2 separate regions of the Homo sapiens genome follow, and region 2 is linked to region 1. A link means that fine-mapping ties the variant in region 1 to the expression of a gene that starts in the linked region. Tissue or cell type: thyroid. Region 1 holds a variant in brackets; the other region holds the start of a gene. All regions are shown on one strand. Distances are from middle to middle.

Region 1 (10,167 bases):
TTAAAAAGATAGTTCTTTACATACATAACTGAATGTATCTTAATTATTTTGCCTTTGAAGGACTTGTCACATAAATAAATTAACATATCTGAAAAGAAAAAAACCCATCCGTATGGTGAGGCCATGCATTCCAGTCTTTGGTTTTGGAAAATTTGGTTATGGGAGAGTTAGGAAATCAAAATCCTTTCTTGTTGTACCTAGAAGAGGCAGCTCCTTGTCAGCAATGTAGTTTAGGGGAGAGTAGAAGTTAGAAATGGGATCTAGGAGTTTTGACACAGTGGCTTCCCAGAGCAAGTTCTGGGATTACAGTCAGGTTGAGAGAAGTTGGAAAGGGACCTAACAAATATCCATGGAGCCTCTCCCTTGTGCCTGGCTCTGACCAGGTGCTTCACATGCAACTTCATTTGATCCTCACTTCTGCCCTCTGAGGTGGGCATTATTAATCCAAGTTATAGATAAAGTCACTGAGGCCCACTATTAGTACCCTTTGAAAAGAACAAACAGTGGATTTCAAAAGTTCAAAATTTCTTTTATACAAAGCATACCTATTAAAAAATACATTTTTCTAGTGCAAAAAGAAAGATGTCAGGGAAAGATTAGCTTGCTTAGAAGAGATAAGCCCTCATTCTCTGCTCACGCCACAATTCTCACTCTTTCCCCAGTAAATCCACAGGTGATACGTCATTGGCTTCATGAGAGCTTTGGAGATGATCTTACATTTGCACCTTCTTCACACCCTAAAGGGAGCTTTGAATCTCCCCCACGGTTCCCATATCTTGCATGTGAGTTATTTGAGATAACTCTCTGGAATTAGCTGATAAATCTTTCCTGGAAGCTTCTGCTTTGACTCAAGAGGAACTAAATAAAAGCTTTCAGAGTGCCATTGTGTATTATCCATGCTGTTTCACAGGAATCCCAAGTGGAGGATGCAATATATTGTTTTAATTACAAAGGGATAATAGCCCTGTGTAAGGAGTTATTTGTAATGAGCTTTGTAAAGGAGTTTTACCACGAAGAAATGAGTCTCACATAATGAGCTATAAAAGCTACTGTGATTATTATTATTGGTTTTATTCAGGGCCAGACCTCAGTGAGATTGGGACAGAGGCTGACTTTTACCTGAGCACCATTTTTCCCTGCCCCATACATCTGTTCTTCTCTGGGCATCATTGCTTTCCTCCCTTTTCATCATTCTTAGCCCCCGGAGGAGCCTAGTCCTTTCTACGAGGAGAAGAGCCTGGGTTAAATGCATTTATATAAAAGTAATAGAGATGTAATGTGTTTCTTTTCCCAGAGGTATTTACATTTTAAAACTTTGGGCTCAAGAGGGCTATACTTAATTCAAAGGAACAAGTCTCCAGTGGCGGAAATGCAGGCCTTATGGAAGGAGGAGTTTCAAGAGAGACTTTTTGAGACAAGACTAAGAAGATAGAGGAGGAAGAGGAGAAATATTAATATATTCCCACCCATTTTCATTACAAAAGGATAATGGCCTAAAATATGGCATTTGGGTGGGATGAAATCAGTTCTCCCACTTCCTGATACAATGTCTATGGAAGTGCCTGTTGGCTTTCCTCTACAGAGGGACGGCCCTTGTTTCATTTATTGCTTTCTAAATCAAATGACTCCTTTGGGAAATGGTATAGCTCAAATCAATTCAGTTCAACTTGTGGAGATGTAAATTCACCATAAAGTGGTGATACAAGTATAAAACATGGTCCTTGCCTTCAGGGAGCTATAATCCCCTTGAGAGATGCAGACGATTCTTCTCCATGATGCAGTAAGAAAATAATGTAAGACAGTGCATTATGGAGGACTATGTACAGCTTTAAAATAATTTTTTATCCCTTCTTTCTGCCCCTTGCAGCAAAAGTGCCATCTATAATATACTGTGTCGGAGATTTGAGCCTCTACTTGTTACCAATTTGCTGAGAGACAAATGCATATACAGGTTAAGTATCCCTTATTCGAAGTGCTTGTGACCAAAAGTGCTTTGGATTTCAGGTCTCTTTGAATTTTGGAATGTTCGCATTATACTTACCAGTTGAGCATCCCTAATCTGAAAATTAAAAGTCTGAAATGCTCCAATGAGCATTTTCTTGAAGCACCATGTTGACAATCAAAAAGTTTTAGATTTTGGAACATTTCGAATTTCAGTTTTGGATTAGGATTACTCAATCTGTACTAAGAAGTTTGTGGTGTTTTTCTCCACAACAAACCAACTTAATGTCGTCAATAGTTCTTTCTCTTCCATGGAAAGCCACAGGCACCCCTAAAGGGAAACTGGTTGTATCCCTCTCAACTTCCAGTTCTCTCTCTTTGTCTTTCTCTCTTTCTCTCTCTCTCTCTGTCTTACTGACCCAGGTTACGACCTGTTCTTTTCCTTGGCCTGGTCTTTCTTTTCGGATCACTGTGAATTGGGCACTTGAATTGGACTGTCTTTGAGTTTCAGGCGCTATTTTAGCCCTGAATGATTTCTCTTCCCCAGTTACTCCATACTCCCTGCTGCAGCTGCTTCTGTTCCCTTGCCCGATCTAAGCTCTATGAGGACAGTGCAGGTCAGAACTGGGCCCCTGTTTTCTCAGGAGGGGAAGTTAGGCACTGTGACCCTACTTTGCAAGAATAGCAGCCGCCGCCGCTATTCTTTATTTAGATCAATGCATGGGTATTGAGTGATTGGGTGAGCCCCTGGAGAATCCTGAGACTCTAAAAACATTTTACACCATGCAGTTTCTCCATGAGGTACTAAGGAAGTCAATAAATCTTCCCATATCACCCTGGAGGGATAACATGAAGAAAATAGATATAAAACCAAGATTTTCAGCTATTTAGTTCCCAGGATGTTAAGCAATCACAGATAACTTTTAAAAAAGAAATTCTTAAGTGTAGAGGGTACGTGGAACTTTGTACAAAGGCAGTATTGATGGTCAAAGCAAGTAAGAACTGTGCATTTGAGGCACCCACTTGAATCAATCGAGGTGATCCATCTCGTGGAAACATGGTTTTTCTGATACAGCTGAGATGTTTGCCATCATTTTAGAGCTGAGTTTCTCAAAATATGGTTTCTAGACTACCTGCATCAGAGTCACCCAGGGAGCTAGTTAAAAATATAGATTTCTGGGTTGGGGCCAAATTTGGATGCTTTCAGCTACAAATAAGAGAAAACTCAACTCAAAGTGGCTAGGGGAACTGATTAATTTAGAGACTCAATAACCTCTCCAAAGACACTTCTGCTATGATTTCAAGGTATCCCCAAAGTTCATGTGTTGGAAACTTAATCCCCAATGCAATAATGTTTAGAGGTGGAACCTTTAAGAGGTGACTAGGTCAAGAGGCCTCTGCCCTCATGAATGGATTTTTGTCATTATTGTAGGAGTAGGTTTGTTATTGACAGAGTGGGTTGTTATAAAAGCAAGTTCAGCCCTCTCTTGTTCTCTCTTGCCTTGCCAGACGCGGCCCCTTGATCTCAGACTTCTCAGTCTTCAGAACTGTGAGAAATAAATTTCTGTTCATTATAAATTACTCAGACTGTAGGATTCTGTTATAGCAGCACAAAATGAAATAAGACACAAAATTGGTACCAAGCAGTGGGGCTGTTGCTATAACAAATACCTAAAAATGTCAAAGTGACTTTGGAACTGAGTAATGGGTAGAGGCTGGAAGAATTTGGAGGAACAGGCTAGAAAAAGCCGATATTGTCATAACTTGAGCGTTAAGGGTGATTCTGGTGGGAGCTATGAAGAAGACAAGAGCTGTAGGGAGAGCCTGTCTTCTTAGGGATTACTTAAGTGGTCATGATCTGAATGTTGGTAGAAATATGGACAGTAAAGGCCATTTTGATGAGGTCTCAGACAGAAATGAGAGACAAGTTATTGGAAACTGGAGTAGAGGTCATCCTTGTTACAGAATGACAAACAATTTGGCTGAATTTATCCATGCCCAAGGGCTTTATGGAAGGCAGAATTTAAGAGCAATAAACTAGGATATCTTACAGAAGAAATCTCTAAGCACCAAAGCACCAAAGGTGCTGCATAGCTTCTTTTGGCCCCTTGCAGTAAAATGAAAAATGAGACAAATAGTTTAAAGATTGAATTTATGATCAGAAAGGAAGCAGAATATAAAAATTTAGAAAAATGTTTTCTGTCCATGTAAAGAATAAAGAAGCCTTTTTTTTTTTTTTTTTTTTTTTTGAGACAGAGTCTCACTCTGTCACCCAGGCTGGAGTGCAGTGGCACGATCTCAACTCACTGCAACCTCTGCCTCCTGGGTTCACACCATTCTCCTGGCTCAGCCTCCTGAGTAGCTGGGACTACAGGCGCCCACCACCACACCTGGCTAATTTTTTGTATTTTTAGTACAGATGGGGTTTCACTGTGTTAGCCAGGATGGTCTCGATCTCCTGACCTTGTGATCCGCCCGGCTCGGCCTCCCAAAGTGCTGGGATTACAGGCGTGAGCCACCGTGCCTGGCAAAGAAGCATGTTTATGAGAGGACACCAAGGATGCAGACAAGCAACTATTTAATAAGGAGATGATTACAGATGGAAGGAATCCAGATGCTATTCATTGAGACAATGGGAGAATGACCCCAAAGGTATTTCAGAGATCTTCAAGGCTGCCTCTTCCATCACAGGCCCAAAACTCTAAGAGGGCAGAATGATTTGGGGGGATGAGCCTTGAGTGCCCTCCATGAGCTCTCTGCTCAGGGTTGCCTTGGGATTCTGCTCCCCACATTCTGGCACAGTGCTCCTTGGTCACTCTAGCCTTGGTGAATGTAGGCCCAGATGTGGTTCGTGCCCCAGCTCCAGAGAGTGCAAGCTGTAAGCCTTGGTGTTGTCCATGTGGTGCTAACTCTGCAGACACAAAGAGTGCATGAGCTGTGGGGCCATGGCGGCCTCCACTGAGATTTCAAAGGGTG[T/A]TGTGGACAGCCTGGGGGCTCAGGCAGAAACTTGCTGCAGGAGTGAAGCTGCCACAGAGAATCCCTACCTAGGCAATGACTAGTGAAGCCATGGGAATGAGGCCACCGCAGAAAACTCCCACTATGGAAATATCTACTGGAGCTGAGGGAACAAGACCACCACCAAGACTCCAAAATTGGTGTCTCAGTTCATTTTGTGCTGCCATAACAGAATATCACTGCCTGGGTGCTTTAGTGTAATCTAGGCTGGGATTGCCGCAGATACCAGACTCCAGCTTGAGAGAGATGAAGCTTGGCTGAGCCCAGCAAAGTTGTGGGGGTAGGGCTGCCTGGGCCATGGGGGCTTAACCTCCACCCAGGTGTGCCCAGGATTCAGGATTTGGAGTCAAAGGAGATTATTCTCCAGCTTTAAGACATACTGTTGCTTTCCCTGTTGGGTTTTATAGTTAGTTAGGACCAGTTACTCCTTTCTTCTTGCCTATTTCTCCCTTTTGGAATGGGAATGTTTATTATATGCTTGTCCCACCATTGTATATCGGAAGTAGACAATATGTTTAATTTCACAGGCTCACAGCTGGAAGAATTTGCTTTGGGATGAATTCTGCCTTCAGTCTCACTGATAATCAGTTTAGATGAAACTCTGGACTTCAGACTTTTGAGGTGATGCTGGAATGAGTTAAGACTTTGGGGATATTGGGATGAAATAAATGTATTTTGCATGTGAGAAGGACATGAATTTTGGGGGTTAGGGGAAGAATGCTATGGTTCAAATGTGTCCCCCAAAGTTCATGTGTTAGAAACTTAATCCCCAATGCAATAGTGTTGGGAGGTGGGACTTTTGAGAGGTGAGACTTTTAAAAGGTGATTAGGTCGTGAGGGCTCTGCCCTTACACACGGATTTATGTCATTATTGTGGGAGTGGGTTCGTTATGGAGAGTGTGCGTTGTTATAATAAAAGTGGTTTAGCCCTCTCTTGCCCTCTCTCACCCTCTTTTGCCCTCTCTCACCCTCTCTTGCCCTTCTGCCTTCTGCCATGGGATAACTCTGCAAGAAGGTCCATGCCTGATGCTACCCTCTTGCTCTTGGACTTCTCAGCCTCAGAATTGTGAGAAAGAAGTTTCTGTTCCTTATAAATTACCCACAAATTGATATTCTGTTACAGCAGCACAAAATGAACTGAGACACCATTCTTTCTTTCTTCCCTTATGTCAGATGTGTCCTCAGGCTAGTTCCCCTCGTGGTCGGAAGATGGCTGCCATATCTCCCAAATACAGCACAATAATGGCCAGCAGAGGGAGAGACATTTATGTGATTGATGAACCCTTTTCCAGGGCTGGCTCCATGGGCAGAGACATGTGCAGTCACATAGGACCCTGTGCTCAGAAGACCCCTTTACTTGGCTTAGTACACTGCTCTCACCATCTTGAAATTATTCCTAATCTTATCTTTGAACTTTTGTTTGATAAGTGGAATCTGATGGGAAAACGGAGCAGGTCCACGAACAGAGAGAATATGTGTCTCTGCCCTTCTGTTACCCTATTTACATATAACATCTACAATGTCCCATGAGCACAGAATGTGTGGGAAGTTCAGCAAGACTCAAAGCAAGTACATGTTGTGGGGGGGAAATGTTTTTCTCTCTATCCTTCATAGTTTTTAGATAAGAAAGACTCCTGTAAAAAAAAAAAAAGACAGAATAATAAAAGAAAAAGAAACAGAAGTTTAGTAACATGTATACCTCATGTATATCTCTGGGAGATACCCAGAGAAATGAGTTAATCTCAGAACAGACTTAAATACCATTATCTGTTAAGACAAAGAAAGAAAGGTGTGGGAAAGGCTGGTTATGAGGAGATGCCCAGGAGAAGCATGGGAAACAAGGGTAAGATTGGTTATGCAGATTAAAGTCAGTGTCTTCTCCATTGATAAGTCTCTTGTTATTTAGTCAGCCTTCTCTTCCTTATACTGAGAGAAAGATGCCCTTACAAATGGAGGCTTATGGGTATAAATTTCCCTTACAAAAGGGTAACTTCTACTCTGTTTTCAGAATTTCTCCTGTGTCTGAAGTTTCTCAAAATAATCAGCTCAAAATAATCCTTATGCCAAAAAGGCATATTTGGGGGTAGATATTCTTTTCTGCCATAGTCATACTTTGGGGTGCATATTATGTTCCCCATAGTCATATTTTGGGGTAACATATTCTGGTCTCCTACAGTCACATGTTGGGGGGTGCATATGCTGGTTTCCCACAAGGGTTCCCCTTTGTTTTTCATTTATTTTCAGAGCATCTTTAGGACCAACTGCGCACACTTTGAGAAACACTTCTTCTTTGGAAGGTAGGTTTATCAAGACAGAATTTAGTGGGCGTATTTTTCTTTTCTAGATACTATGTCCAAAGTTGGGATAGGAGACACCAGAATAACAGAGAGGAATGTTCATGTTGGTGTGGGCCCACCTACCAGGCCTTCTTGGAGAGCTGAGTCTCAGAACAGTTAGTATGTGTTTCTGCTAAAGATCTTCTTTCTCTATTAAAATACAACTCTATTAGAATAACTGTACAACATTTTAGCTAATGTCCTAGTCAACTAGTCTAACATCTCCAATCCCACTCATTTTCAGAAGTTTTGATATCCCTCTTGCCCTCCACTCACAATTATTGAACTCTTTCCTGTGGCTCCTTCAGCTATTAATAATAAGTTTAGAAAGACAATAAAAATAAACAGATGATGATGGAATTTATGGCAAAGGGTCACTAATCTGACTTTCTTGCTGTACGGATAAGAAACTGAGTGTTCCAGAAAAGGAAGTGAGTTAAATAAGATTATACTGCAAGTTAGGAGCATATTCAGGCTAGAATTCAGATGCTTCATGTTCCTCTCTGGCTGGAGGTCTAACCTCCATGTGTCATTCTACATGGCTCCTTTCTCCAAACTCCTTCCTCCTACCAGCCTCAGACCTGAATTTCAAAACATCAGTTTAGTAAATACAAGTCAGTGCAATGTGACTTGGTTGAATTTCCTTAACTTCTGTTTTTCTTCATTCCTTTGACAATGTTTTAAACCTCAAAATCATCTCCACACCCTCTTTTTTGTTTCCTTTCTTTCATTCCTCCTCTGCACTTAGTCCTCCACCTCCTACTCTGTCATTTATAGCTGCCACTCTTCTTCTGTAACATTTCTTGGTGAAGCAGAATAATAATTAAAAATAAAAACTCAACTATTATCTTAGTAGCTGGCATCAGAATTCCTGTTAGGGAAGAAATAATCTGTTAAGAACACAGACTTTTTAATATTAAATTTTGATTTGTTTCCATTGCTTCTGGGTAAATCCTCCCTTCTTCATTTTTCTCAAAATGTCAGCAAAGGCCTTGTAAAATTGTAGTGTGTGTGTGTCTATGTATGTGTGTATAAGTAAATCAAGGAAAGGGACTGGGTTTCAAGGGACTGTCACTCAAGGGACTGGGTAAGAGGGCTACACGCACTGGAAGGTGAGATCACTAACAACAGAACTAATTCCAGAACCAGAGGAGGCCACAAAAAAGTAACTGCTCTGAGAGAATGCAGACATCTTGGGGAGGGCATTAAACTTTCCACAGGATGTGGAATGGAGATTCGAGCCAATCTTATCTGAATCTCAAGTGGCAGGGTGCCTGAAACTGACATTTGGGTTATGTTAGATTTTTATTTTATTTATAATATCACATCCATTTCCTTGACCCTTCATAACCTTGCCTCACCCTACAAAGCAAGTCTCCAGACAGAATCCCTCTGCTCCAGCTAGGCTAATATTGGTGTAGGCTCAAGAACACATCACATTGGCTCGGAGCTCCCACCTTGACTCAATTTCTCTGGATATTGGATCTTAAATGCCTTTCCCACCCCACTATTCTGACTCATCCCTTAGCGCCTTGCTCAAGTTCCCCTGTGAGTTTGCTCACACTCTCTCTGCTTCTGGCTGCTTACTACTCTTATAGTTGATACCCATGAGGTCTACTCTTGATTAACATGCTGTTTTGCACATGTGGGCCCATTACTGGTTCAGATCTGCTTGGTTTTCAACCTTACTGTGATGTGGGCTCATTAAGGCCAGGATCTATCTTGTTCCTTTGAACTCCACAGCACCTAGCTAGGTGCTTTGTATTAACATTAAATACTGACAGCCTACTTTAACCTTCCTCTTTGGAGCAATCCATGCACCAGACCCTTTGTTTGTTCTGCTACCTTTAGTCTCTCAGTTTTGTCCTTACTGTTAGCAGCAAGAATCCTTTTCTTTTAGGACTGTTGAATCCTCTGATCAGTCCCACTCTCAAATCAAACTCCTCTGGATGCCCTGATACCCACGAGCTAAGGTGACTGTCAGGTCCTCACAGTTCACATCCCATGATTCATGAACCCCAAGCTTGTCCTTGTTGAGTGGGTAGGACAACCGCCTTTGGAAGACCCTCTGCCACAGCTTATAATAGGTGCTTTTCTTTGATGGGTAAATTCTGTGTCATAACAGCAAAAAATACACTCAATACTCCACCCAGAATACACACACACACACACACACACACACACACAACCGAAAGAGAAGTTTTATAAAACAATACTCACCTTTACTTTGTGCAACGCAAACTATTTTCTTTTCTCTTTTAAGATAAAATATGGTGATTTCAGCTCACTAAATTGATTTCATGTCTCACTAATGAGCTGTGATTTGCTGTGTTTAAAAAACACTCTTCTAGAGGATCAAAGAACAGTTGGCAGGGGAAGAGAGGGCCATTCTCAAGCCCTTAAACGGTGGCTCCTGGAAGGGGTGGTGGTTCCTGGAGATCATTCCTCCTGCAGGCTCCCTTGGTCCTGCAAGTTCATCTGAAGTTAAAAATCAGCATGAGAGACACACTGATCTGGAGTTTACCTCTGGGTCATCTCGCTAGTCTCTGTGTATGGGCTGGGTGAGCAGCTTCCTGTAGAGTGACATCTGAGGAAGGGCATGAGGTTGTCTAGTGGGGGCTGGACACTGTCAGCTCTGCAGACACGTAGGACAGTATTATGGTGGTGTTTTATACACAGGCATTGAATAAATAATTGAAGAGTGATGATCTTTTGTTTCTGTAATTTTCTGTTGGTGGCTACTGACAAGGGAAAGGCACTGCAGGGTTAGGGGGCAGTGGGAATGATGGGACAGTAAAAGGGATGAACGAATTCTTACTGCCAGTGATCTTGGATGGTAAAGCCTTGAAACAGGCGGAAGGTGGCCGGGGCATTC
Region 2 (10,167 bases), 56 kb after region 1:
TGGCCTGTAGAGCAACTAATTCTCAGGTGTGTGAGACCTCCAAGGCTTTACAGTTCAGCCCAAGGCCCAGCTGCTGACTTGGGGGACACAGAAATTATTGTAAAATACTATATTAGAAAGGCTATTATGTGTGACTCCACAGGACAGAACTGGAATCAAGAGAAAGAAGAGAATTTTCAAGGCATCCCTATGGTAGGGCCTCACTCACTAGCAATATACCTTCTTAAGCAGGAGAGACGAGGGTGCAGTCACAGCAAGTGTGCTGGGAGGTACCTGTCATCTGCAGCCTACCTAGTTGATGCTGCAGCCACTACTAAAAGACTGCTACAAGCATGGACATTACTAATTGTGCAGTCCTTTACATCCCCAACCCCATTTGGAGGCTTCAGATTAGGCCCTCAGGAGCAAATAATGGACTAAGCATGGCCTATCATGTGGGTTGAGAATGACTCCAAACTCCTAGGCATGGCTGTTAAAGCCCTCCACAATCTGCTCCTGCCTGCTATGCAGACTCTCCTTCCATGCTCTGCTCATTGTACTCTAAAACCATGCTGGTTTTCATTTCAATGAATTTGTTCATGCAGTCTTGCCTTTGTCTGAAATCCCCTCATCTCTTCTGCAACTCCTCCATCCACTCCACACCCCTACAGACATCACATACCCCTAACTCCTACACCAGAGTTATCTCCACTGGGAAGTCCTCTCGAAGGTCTAAGAATTGATGAGCTCCACTCTTGGAGGGGAGATGGAATGAAACTTTCTGGCATGCACCAGACTTGAACAGAAACTCTGGAATGAAGCCCTGGTTCTTCCCCCATTAATTGTTTATTTGAACGAATCACTTTTATATGTTTCCTCCTCTGCAAAACACAGGCAATAACAATCACCCCACAGAGTGGTTATGAGGATTCATTCATTCAACAATAAAAATTGAATGTCTATAACATTCTGAAGGTATTCGGTCTTGAACAGAACAAATATGATCCTGCTCTCTTGGAACCAACAAGAGAATGTAGAAGCACATTTTGAACAGTATGTAAGCTTTTATTTTTATTTATTTATTGTGAGGTTTTATTTTTACTGCTGACCTTAAGAAGAAAGACTTGAGCCTCCTTAGGACCTCTTTGCAATCTTACTGCTAGCCAAACATTTTCTTCAATCATTAAGAAAGCATTTATTGTGTACCAAATGAGAGAACCTAATGCAATAAGAATGCAAAGTAGAAGACAGGGCTTTTAACTTTGAGAAGCATACTACCCATTTGAGAGAAAAAGCTGTTAAATACTTGACAGAAGGAATCATGCCTGACTTTATTAATTTTTTTTTTTTTTTTTTTTGAGACGGAGTCTCACTCTGTTGCCTAGGCTGGAGTGCACTGACGTGATCTCAGCTCATTGCAACCTCCACCGCCCGGATTCAAGCAACTCTCCTGCCTCAGCCTCCTGAGTAGCTGGGATTACAGGTGCCCACCACCACACTGGGCTAATTTTTGAATTTTATTAGAGATGGGGTTTCACCATGTTGGCCAGGCTGGTCTTAAACTCCTGACCTCAGATGATCTGCCCGCCTCGGCCTTCCAAAGTGCTGGAATTACAGGCATGAGCTACCACACCCGGCCGATTTTATTAATTTAATAGACACCATTGAGTGCCCAGTGTGTGTCAGGCCTTGCACCTCTTTGGTACTGTTCTCATTACTCAGAACAGTGGTAGGCACATAAAGGGGACTCAGCAAAGTATCTGCAGGTTGGCTGATAGACAAATGTTTGGAAAACAAGTCTAAGGAAATATATAACCAAGTGTGAGGATGTATCCTCCATGCTGGATGGTAATTAAAATTGCTACCATGTACCAGATGCTCAGTCTTCTGGAGTTCAGGGGACACCAAAGAGGGCTGAGGTCAATTTTAGAAGACTTATCCATTTTGCTGTAGATTTGCGGAGTCAGAGGAAGAGGTTCTGGCTATGAGTTTATGATTAATCTGGGTTGCTCTGAAATGATTTTCTTTGAAAAACACTGGCCGTGTAGGGGGACCACGAGAAGGAGCACTGGGCCGGGCATGGTGGGTCATGCCTGTAATCCCAGCACTTTGGGAGGCCAAGGCGGGAGGATCAACTGAGGTCAGGAATTTGAGACCAGCCTGGCCAACATGGTGAAACCCCTTCTCTACTAAAAATACAAAAACTAACCAGGTGTGGTGGCACACACCTGTAATCCCAGCTACTCCAGAGGCTAAGGCAGGGAGAATTGCTTGAAACTGGGAGGCAGAGGTTGCAGTGAGCTGAGATGGTGCCACTGCACTCCAGCCTGGGTGACAAAGCGAGACTTCATCTCAAAAAAGAAAAAAAGAAGCACTGGATTCAGAATGTAGGTGCCTGAGCTTTATTTCTGGTCATTGGCCATACAGTACATGAAATAAAATCATAAAATGATTCATGCTCACTATACACAAAATCCTTCCTCTGGCCCTCTTCCTCTTATCTAAGCACCATGTTGCTATTGCCAAACAAGTTTCCTAGTGGCCCCTCCAAAATTTGCTTTATCTCAGGATAGGACAAGTTGAAAGAGGATGTTGAAGGTTTGGGAGTGAAGAACCTTTAGAGTTGGGATGGTTCTCTTCCAGGTTCTAGGGACCATCTCTTTTTGCCTTGCTGATTTCAGAACTTGTATCAGTGGCAGAGGGCTTTAGAACGCAATTCCCTAGGACTCTCCCCAAAACCCAAAAACCAGATTCAGGCTCCTGCCCCACATTCCCATGACACCTTATACTTCCTTTATGTTAACACACATTGTGTTTTACTGAAATCATGTATTTAATGTCTGCTGTTAATAAAGGGGTATAAAGGCAGTTACACTCAGTGAAGTCAGGGAATCCCTTGTTTGTTTCCCCTCCTTCCTGCTGTATCCTCATTGTCCAGAATGATGGCTGGCACCCTGTAGCCACTCAATAAACGTATTAAATGAATTTTAAAAAGGACATTCTAGGCAGAGGGAACATAAGAAGCCAAGATAAATGGGTGAGAAATGGTGAGATGCACATAAGTACATGTGAAATTGTGTAGCTTAAGTATTGAGTGTGTGAGTGGAAAAGTGGAAAAATGATAGCATAAGACTGTACAGGGTTTCACATGGCAAGTTAAGCAGTTTGGACTTTCTAAGTGGTAGGAAGCCAGTGAGGATAACTGCTAAAGCAGTGAGGTAAATTGCCATTGTGTTTGATAGCATTTATTCATGGCATGGGCAGCTTCCTTTGCCCCTCCTAATACACTTCCTGCCAAGAAGCAGATAATAATCTACAAAGTATTTTATATGCTATACGCCCAGTAAACTCACTGAGTATCTAATCTACAAATTTCTTTGGCTGAGATGGGGTATCCAAAGGGAGCCAACGTAGCTGGAAAAGTAACTACAGCCAGAGACCTTTCACATTATAAACTGAGCATCTGGTACATGGTAGCTATTTTAAGTTTCTCTGACCTTGCCTGAGCGTCAGCAGGAAGTCATACATGAAAAACCCTTCACCCTATTTCCTCTGCCTGGGCCCAGGAGGTCTGCCTCACCCCTATACCTCCTCAGATAGTTTCTCTTTTTCCCTCCCAATAAGATATCCTTCCTAATACTGCCTTTCTGGTTTTCCAAGGTGTTCCTTTCTTGTATCTGTGCTTTACCTCTTCCAGGTGGAATTCCTTGGACAGCAGTGAAGGAGTCAGCAGTCAAGCCTCTTGGCAGACTAGACCAAAGGGTCACATTCTTTGCCTGGAACTATTTTTATACTTCCTTGGGGACTTGCAAGGAATGAGTGACAGAGTGAGAAGATCAAGGGAGAAGTCTTCAGGGACTGAGTGTGGAAAACTTGCCCCAAATCCTGGAAGAATATGACATTTGTTTCTTTTTTTTTCTATTTCCATTTTCCTCTCATTTCCTCCCCTTCTACTCTTGCTCCCATTTCTTTTCTCCTTTGTAATGCACCTTTCTCTACTTTCTGCTTTCTCTTTTTCCCTCCTTCTTCTACTCTCATCCTTCCCCACTGCTCTTGTTGCTAGTAATGGCTACCTTTTATTCAGTTCTTATTTGCTGAACACTGTGTTAAGTGCTTTGCACGCATCATCTCATAGCACTCTATGAGTTAATAGTATGTCCATTTTGCAGGTGAGGAAAGTGGAACACAGATTGAATCATTTATCTAAGCCCAGCAGATGGTAATAGAAATTTGTCAAACCTCAGTAAGCTAACTCCTGCATCTGTCTTTTCTTAACCCTACATGGTCTTTTTCTCCATTTCCAACTCTCCCTTGTCCTTCCCTTTTCTTCTCTTCTTTTTATTCCTCCCCTTCTCTCCCTCCCTCTTTTTCTCAGACATTTACCATAGTTCAGTCACTGCACGTGTGTGGCTGACCCTGAAGGTGCTGAACACTGTACATGTGCCCAGAAGAGAGGACAGACAATTCAAACTCTTATCTAATCAGCCATTTTCCTTTTGAGCACATGCTCCACAATTTTCCACATTTGGAGGCTGAAAGAGGGGGCGCTTCGCCACCTAAGGAAATGGGGCAGATGTCTGATCACAAATGACAGGAAAGGCCTCAAGACCTGCATGGGTCTTTGATATAGAGAGGAGCAGAGATAAGATGCTTTCCGCTCACTCAGGAACTCCCTCATTCCCAGGGACACTGTATACTCTCAAGTTTGGGGACCTGGGGTCTGAGAGAATACAGGGCCAGGAGGTTGGTCCCTGTCAAGGCAACAATCAACTCAAGAGCTGAGGAAGCCTGGACTATGAAATGCACCACCCTGACCCCATCTTTCCCCATAAGCATGAAGAATGTTCAGACAGAAACCAGGAGCACGTTGGCAGCAAAGATATGACGGTCAAAGTTTGAATTTGACAAACCTCTAAGGACCCACCCAAATCTGAGGTTTATGATTCTAAGAAAGGAATATTTATGCTCCATTCCCTCCGAGACGTTTGTCATCCTGTTGGTTAGGAATGGTTAGAGGCTTAAACTGTAAGAACATTCGTTATTCACTAAGTAAGAATTCTGGAGGTAGGGAGCCTCAAGAGTTGCTTCAGAGGCCTCAGGGCACTGGTTGACATTTCTGAGATTCTCTGGACAGCTTTAGACATCTTGGTTCATACAACTCTGTCCACAGGCAGGAAGCGGTGGGGCTAAGTGAGGCTCACTCCTATTCACCGGGGGATGGGAGCACTGTGAGTAGTCTCCCTCCTGTTCACCAGGGGATGGGAGCACTGTGAGTGAGGTTCCCTCTTGTTCACAGGGGGATGGGAGCACTGTGAGTGAGGCTCTCTCCATTTACTGGGGGGTAGAAAAACCTTTTCTGGAGCATTCCCTCTACTTTAGATTCTCCCCATACCTCACCTACCAGAACTAACTGCAGAGGAGATTAAGAAAGTGATACCTGGCTTTTTCACCCTGCCAATGGGAGGCAGGCAAGAAACAGGGAATTGGTTTTCTATTGGGTAGGAAACAACAGTGCCTGTCAGCCCCTCCTTCATTCACTCAACTAAGATATATTAAACACCTACTCTGGGCCAGGCTCTGGTGATACAGAAGAAAAGACAGTCTCCATTTTCAAACAGTCCCTCCTGGGAGAACACAGACAGGCAGAGGATTACAACACAAGGCAGCAAGCACTGGGAGACGAGTAAGTGTCCCGGGGGCCATCACAGGAGCTGAAGAGGCTCAGCTTGAGGGAGGAGGGAGGGCTGGAGGAGGCAATGACTGGGTTAAGTTTTGAAAGGTAAATGGGATTCAGCTAGGGGTGAGGGGACATGTAGGGGTACAGAAGGAGGGCATTTGGGAAGACTTGGCATGGCTGGACAAAAGGAACTCATGTGGACAGGCAGGAACAGGCTGGAAAAGCAGACAAAGGCCAGATGAGGGAGGATTTTGTAAGGGACATAAAGTTTTGGGACATTTATTCTGGACATAAGGGTGGGCAGATCTGTGTGTGGGAACCTTATTTAAATGAGACACAGAAACTTAGCAGCAGGGCGAGCTGAGCTGTGTGGCTGGAATGGCTGTGTTGCACCGAGGCATGGGAGATCAACATTGCCTTACCAGCCAGGGGAAGTGAGCACTCATCTGTGATACTGTTAGCTGGTGTGACCAAAGCACACTTTTTGTTTGCCACCTCCCAACACAGCTGGTCCATGCTGGATGGTTCTGATTTTTGCAGAGTGCTTCCTGAGGGGCCAAATTTGCCAATCCCATCCTCACTCTTTCCTCCTCCACCTAGTTCTGCCCTCTGGAGCCATAAAAAAATTCCTTTTCCATCCAACAGCCATTTAAACATTTGGAACAGTTGTGGAATGATTTTCAGAATATCACACACCTCATATCATTTAATCCTCAGAATTCTCTGGTGTAGCTATTCCCATCCCCATTCGATAAATGAAGAAACAGACTCAGTGAGGTAAATGCCCAGAGTCACATTTGCAGACCCCAGTCTTGTGTTCTTTTTAATACTCGTGTTTCTCCAGGTGCGGTCCCTCACCGCCTGCATCAGAATTACTTGGGCTGCTTGTTGTAAATCCAGATTCCTGGGGGCCATCCCAGACCTCCTGAAGTAGAATTACTGGGGCAAGAGCAGAATCCATATTGTAACACACACCACGATTTCTAGATCCGTTAAAGTGTGGGAGCCATGCTCTAATTTTGCTAATATGGCTACTTTGAATCTTCTCTTTCTTTTTATTTTTGCTGGGAAAGGAGAGCGAGCTTTTCGTTGGTTGCTTTGACTTCTAAGTTGCATTTTCTTAAAGAACCCATTGGATGGATGGATCAGTGGAATCCCAGAACATGATAGACATTCCAGACCTTCACAGAACATCCTTCTTCTTTTCTCTCTTTCTCTCTCTCCCATTTGCAGAAGTTTTGGCATCTGTTCCCTGGCTGTGCCAAGATGGGCGATTGGAGCTTCCTGGGAAATTTCCTGGAGGAAGTACACAAGCACTCGACCGTGGTAGGCAAGGTCTGGCTCACTGTCCTCTTCATATTCCGTATGCTCGTGCTGGGCACAGCTGCTGAGTCTTCCTGGGGGGATGAGCAGGCTGATTTCCGGTGTGATACGATTCAGCCTGGCTGCCAGAATGTCTGCTACGACCAGGCTTTCCCCATCTCCCACATTCGCTACTGGGTGCTGCAGATCATCTTCGTCTCCACGCCCTCTCTGGTGTACATGGGCCACGCCATGCACACTGTGCGCATGCAGGAGAAGCGCAAGCTACGGGAGGCCGAGAGGGCCAAAGAGGTCCGGGGCTCTGGCTCTTACGAGTACCCGGTGGCAGAGAAGGCAGAACTGTCCTGCTGGGAGGAAGGGAATGGAAGGATTGCCCTCCAGGGCACTCTGCTCAACACCTATGTGTGCAGCATCCTGATCCGCACCACCATGGAGGTGGGCTTCATTGTGGGCCAGTACTTCATCTACGGAATCTTCCTGACCACCCTGCATGTCTGCCGCAGGAGTCCCTGTCCCCACCCGGTCAACTGTTACGTATCCCGGCCCACAGAGAAGAATGTCTTCATTGTCTTTATGCTGGCTGTGGCTGCACTGTCCCTCCTCCTTAGCCTGGCTGAACTCTACCACCTGGGCTGGAAGAAGATCAGACAGCGATTTGTCAAACCGCGGCAGCACATGGCTAAGTGCCAGCTTTCTGGCCCCTCTGTGGGCATAGTCCAGAGCTGCACACCACCCCCCGACTTTAATCAGTGCCTGGAGAATGGCCCTGGGGGAAAATTCTTCAATCCCTTCAGCAATAATATGGCCTCCCAACAAAACACAGACAACCTGGTCACCGAGCAAGTACGAGGTCAGGAGCAGACTCCTGGGGAAGGTTTCATCCAGGTTCGTTATGGCCAGAAGCCTGAGGTGCCCAATGGAGTCTCACCAGGTCACCGCCTTCCCCATGGCTATCATAGTGACAAGCGACGTCTTAGTAAGGCCAGCAGCAAGGCAAGGTCAGATGACCTATCAGTGTGACCCTCCTTTATGGGAGGATCAGGACCAGGTGGGAACAAAGGAGGCTCAGAGAGGAAAGACGTGTCCCTTCTGAACTGATGCTTTCTCACTGTCATCACTGCTTGGCTCCTTTGAGCCCCGGGTCTCAATGACGTTGCTCATTAATTCTAGAAACTATAACCAGGGCTCTGGGATAGTAAGAGAGGTGACAACCCACCCAGACTGCAGTTCCCTCCCCACCCTCTACCCAGTATACGAAGCCTTTCAGATTACTCATGAAACAGGGTAGAGGGAAAGAAGGGAAGCATGGCAAAAGCTGGCCTGGAAGGGATAGCCAGAGGGATAGAATGACTCTCTCTCTACATACCAGCAGCATACCAAATGCGTTCTCTAAGTTCCTACCTCCTTGACCTGATCACCCTCCCTCCTCCAAGGAAGAGCTCAAAGTTCCCAGCCAATAGACAGCATGAATCAAGGAACTTGCATTATATGTGCTCTTGAATCTGTTGTCTCCATGGACCATTCCTCGGAGTAGTGGTGAGATGGCCTTGGGTTGCCCTTGGCTTCTCCTCCCTCTACTCAGCCTTAAAAAGGGCTTCTTGGAACTTTACCAGCAGCCTCAGCTTTACAAATGCCTTGGTATGTACCTCTGGCAAATGCCCTGGTATGTACCTCTGGCAAATGCCCCACCTTGGTGATGTTGCAACCTTTCCTTCTGCTAGGGTGTACACCTAGCCTGTGCAGGTGTCAGCCCTGCTAGGGAGTCACTGTACACACAAACTCTACTGGAATTCCTGCCAACATCTGTCACCCTGCAGCTCCTTTACAGTTCAATCCAATGATAGAAACCATCCCTTCCCTTTCTCCCTTGGCTGTTCACCCAGCCATTCCCTGAAGGCCTTACCAACAGGAATATCCAAGAAGCTGTTGTCCTCTCTCGAACCCTGACCAGATCATCAGCCACTGAGGCCAGTGGAATTTCCCCAGGCCTTGTTAAAACAAAGAAAGCATTGTACTTCTCAGATTCCCCTTGTGGAAAAAAAAATTCTGCTGTGAAGATGAAAATAAAAATGGAGAGAAAACACTGGAAAACTATTTTCCCCTCCTATTTACTTCCTTTGCTGACTGCCAACTTAGTGCCAAGAGGAGGTGTGATGACAGCTATGGAGGCCCCCAGATCTCTCTCTCCTGGAGGCTTTAGCAGGGGCAAGGAAATAGTAGGGGAATCTCCAGCTCTCTTGGCAGGGCCTTTATTTAAAGAGCGCAGAGATTCCTATGTCTCCCTAGTGCCCCTAATGAGACTGCCAAGTGGGGGCTGTAGAAAAGCCTTGCCTTCCCCAGGGATTGGCCTGGTCTCTGTATTCACTGGATCCATAATGGGTTGCTGTTGTTTTGGATGAAGGTAAACGATGCTTGGAATTGGAAACTGAGACTTATAGAGGGATTATTACATTATTAAAATGCACGTGTGTGTGTGTGTGGGTGCTGATGGGATGGGTAAAGGCTTGGGGAGTCCTGAAATAAGGAAAGGAAACCACAGAGAAACTTGTGTCTTCCTGCTCTCCTCTCCGGCTGCCTGGCAGTTATTAACCTAAACAGATAGCCACAAGAGGTTGGGACAGAGGAGGGTAAAGGCTCAGAAGGAGGTTCAACCTCTGACTCACCTGCCCATCTCTGGGCCCTCTGCTGACACTTGGATGCTATTGTTGGGTGGAAAGATAAATGAGAGTGGAGAGGTGGAGGAAAGTGACTAGGATGCCATTTAGGAAGGAATGTCTGATCATCCCGGGTCCCTGGAGGGGACACCTTTTAATCTATTGCCTAGCATTAATATTTTCTCTCCTTCTATCTCTGAAATGTTTTATGAAATGAGTGTTCTTGAATTAGAAATTCTGTGGGATCAATCTTTGATGGTGAGGGTTTTAGAAAGGAAAAATATAGTAAAATGTGTAATTTGTCTTAATAAAATCTATCTCTACATCTATCTCTCTTTTGTTGTCCACTTCATACTGTGACTACAAGAGAAGGATGGCAGACTTGGTGGGGAGGGGAGCGCTTGGACTATACCCATCAGTAAGCCAGTAATGCAAAGAGCTTTGAAGTCAGGCATGCAATGGTTAAAATTCCAGTTGTTAACTTACATCTGGACTCCAGCAAGACAATCTCTGAGCCTTGGTTTCTTCATCTGT

Which allele goes with the higher level. Positions count from the first base shown, and alleles are read on the strand shown. Sizes are in standard deviations (SD) of each study's normalised expression.
With allele A in place of T in region 1, the expression in thyroid of the gene that starts at base 5,559 in region 2 is lower (small effect, 0.39 SD a copy in GTEx).

Evidence for each region. PIP is the estimated chance that this variant, and not a neighbour inherited with it, causes the effect.
Region 2: GJA5 starts here. The variant in region 1 is the best candidate, but not a certain one, in a credible set for the expression of GJA5 in thyroid (GTEx, PIP 0.80).

What each region holds. Positions count from the first base shown.
Region 1 is chr1:147,811,674-147,821,840 of GRCh38, reverse strand. No RefSeq gene overlaps it. Among named protein-coding and RNA genes, the nearest start is that of GJA5, 56 kb to the right of the region's middle. The variant T/A (reference allele first, on the strand shown) is at 4,918.
Region 2 is chr1:147,755,994-147,766,160 of GRCh38, reverse strand. It overlaps GJA5 (gap junction protein alpha 5), which reads left to right and starts at 5,559. Exons shown (of 2, transcript NM_181703.4): 1 at 5,559-5,662; 2 at 6,890-9,962. The coding sequence starts at 6,923. The coding sequence ends at 7,999. All of the region lies in intron 1 of LOC102723321 (a long non-coding RNA gene), which reads right to left. RefSeq lists a silencer at 7,486-7,780.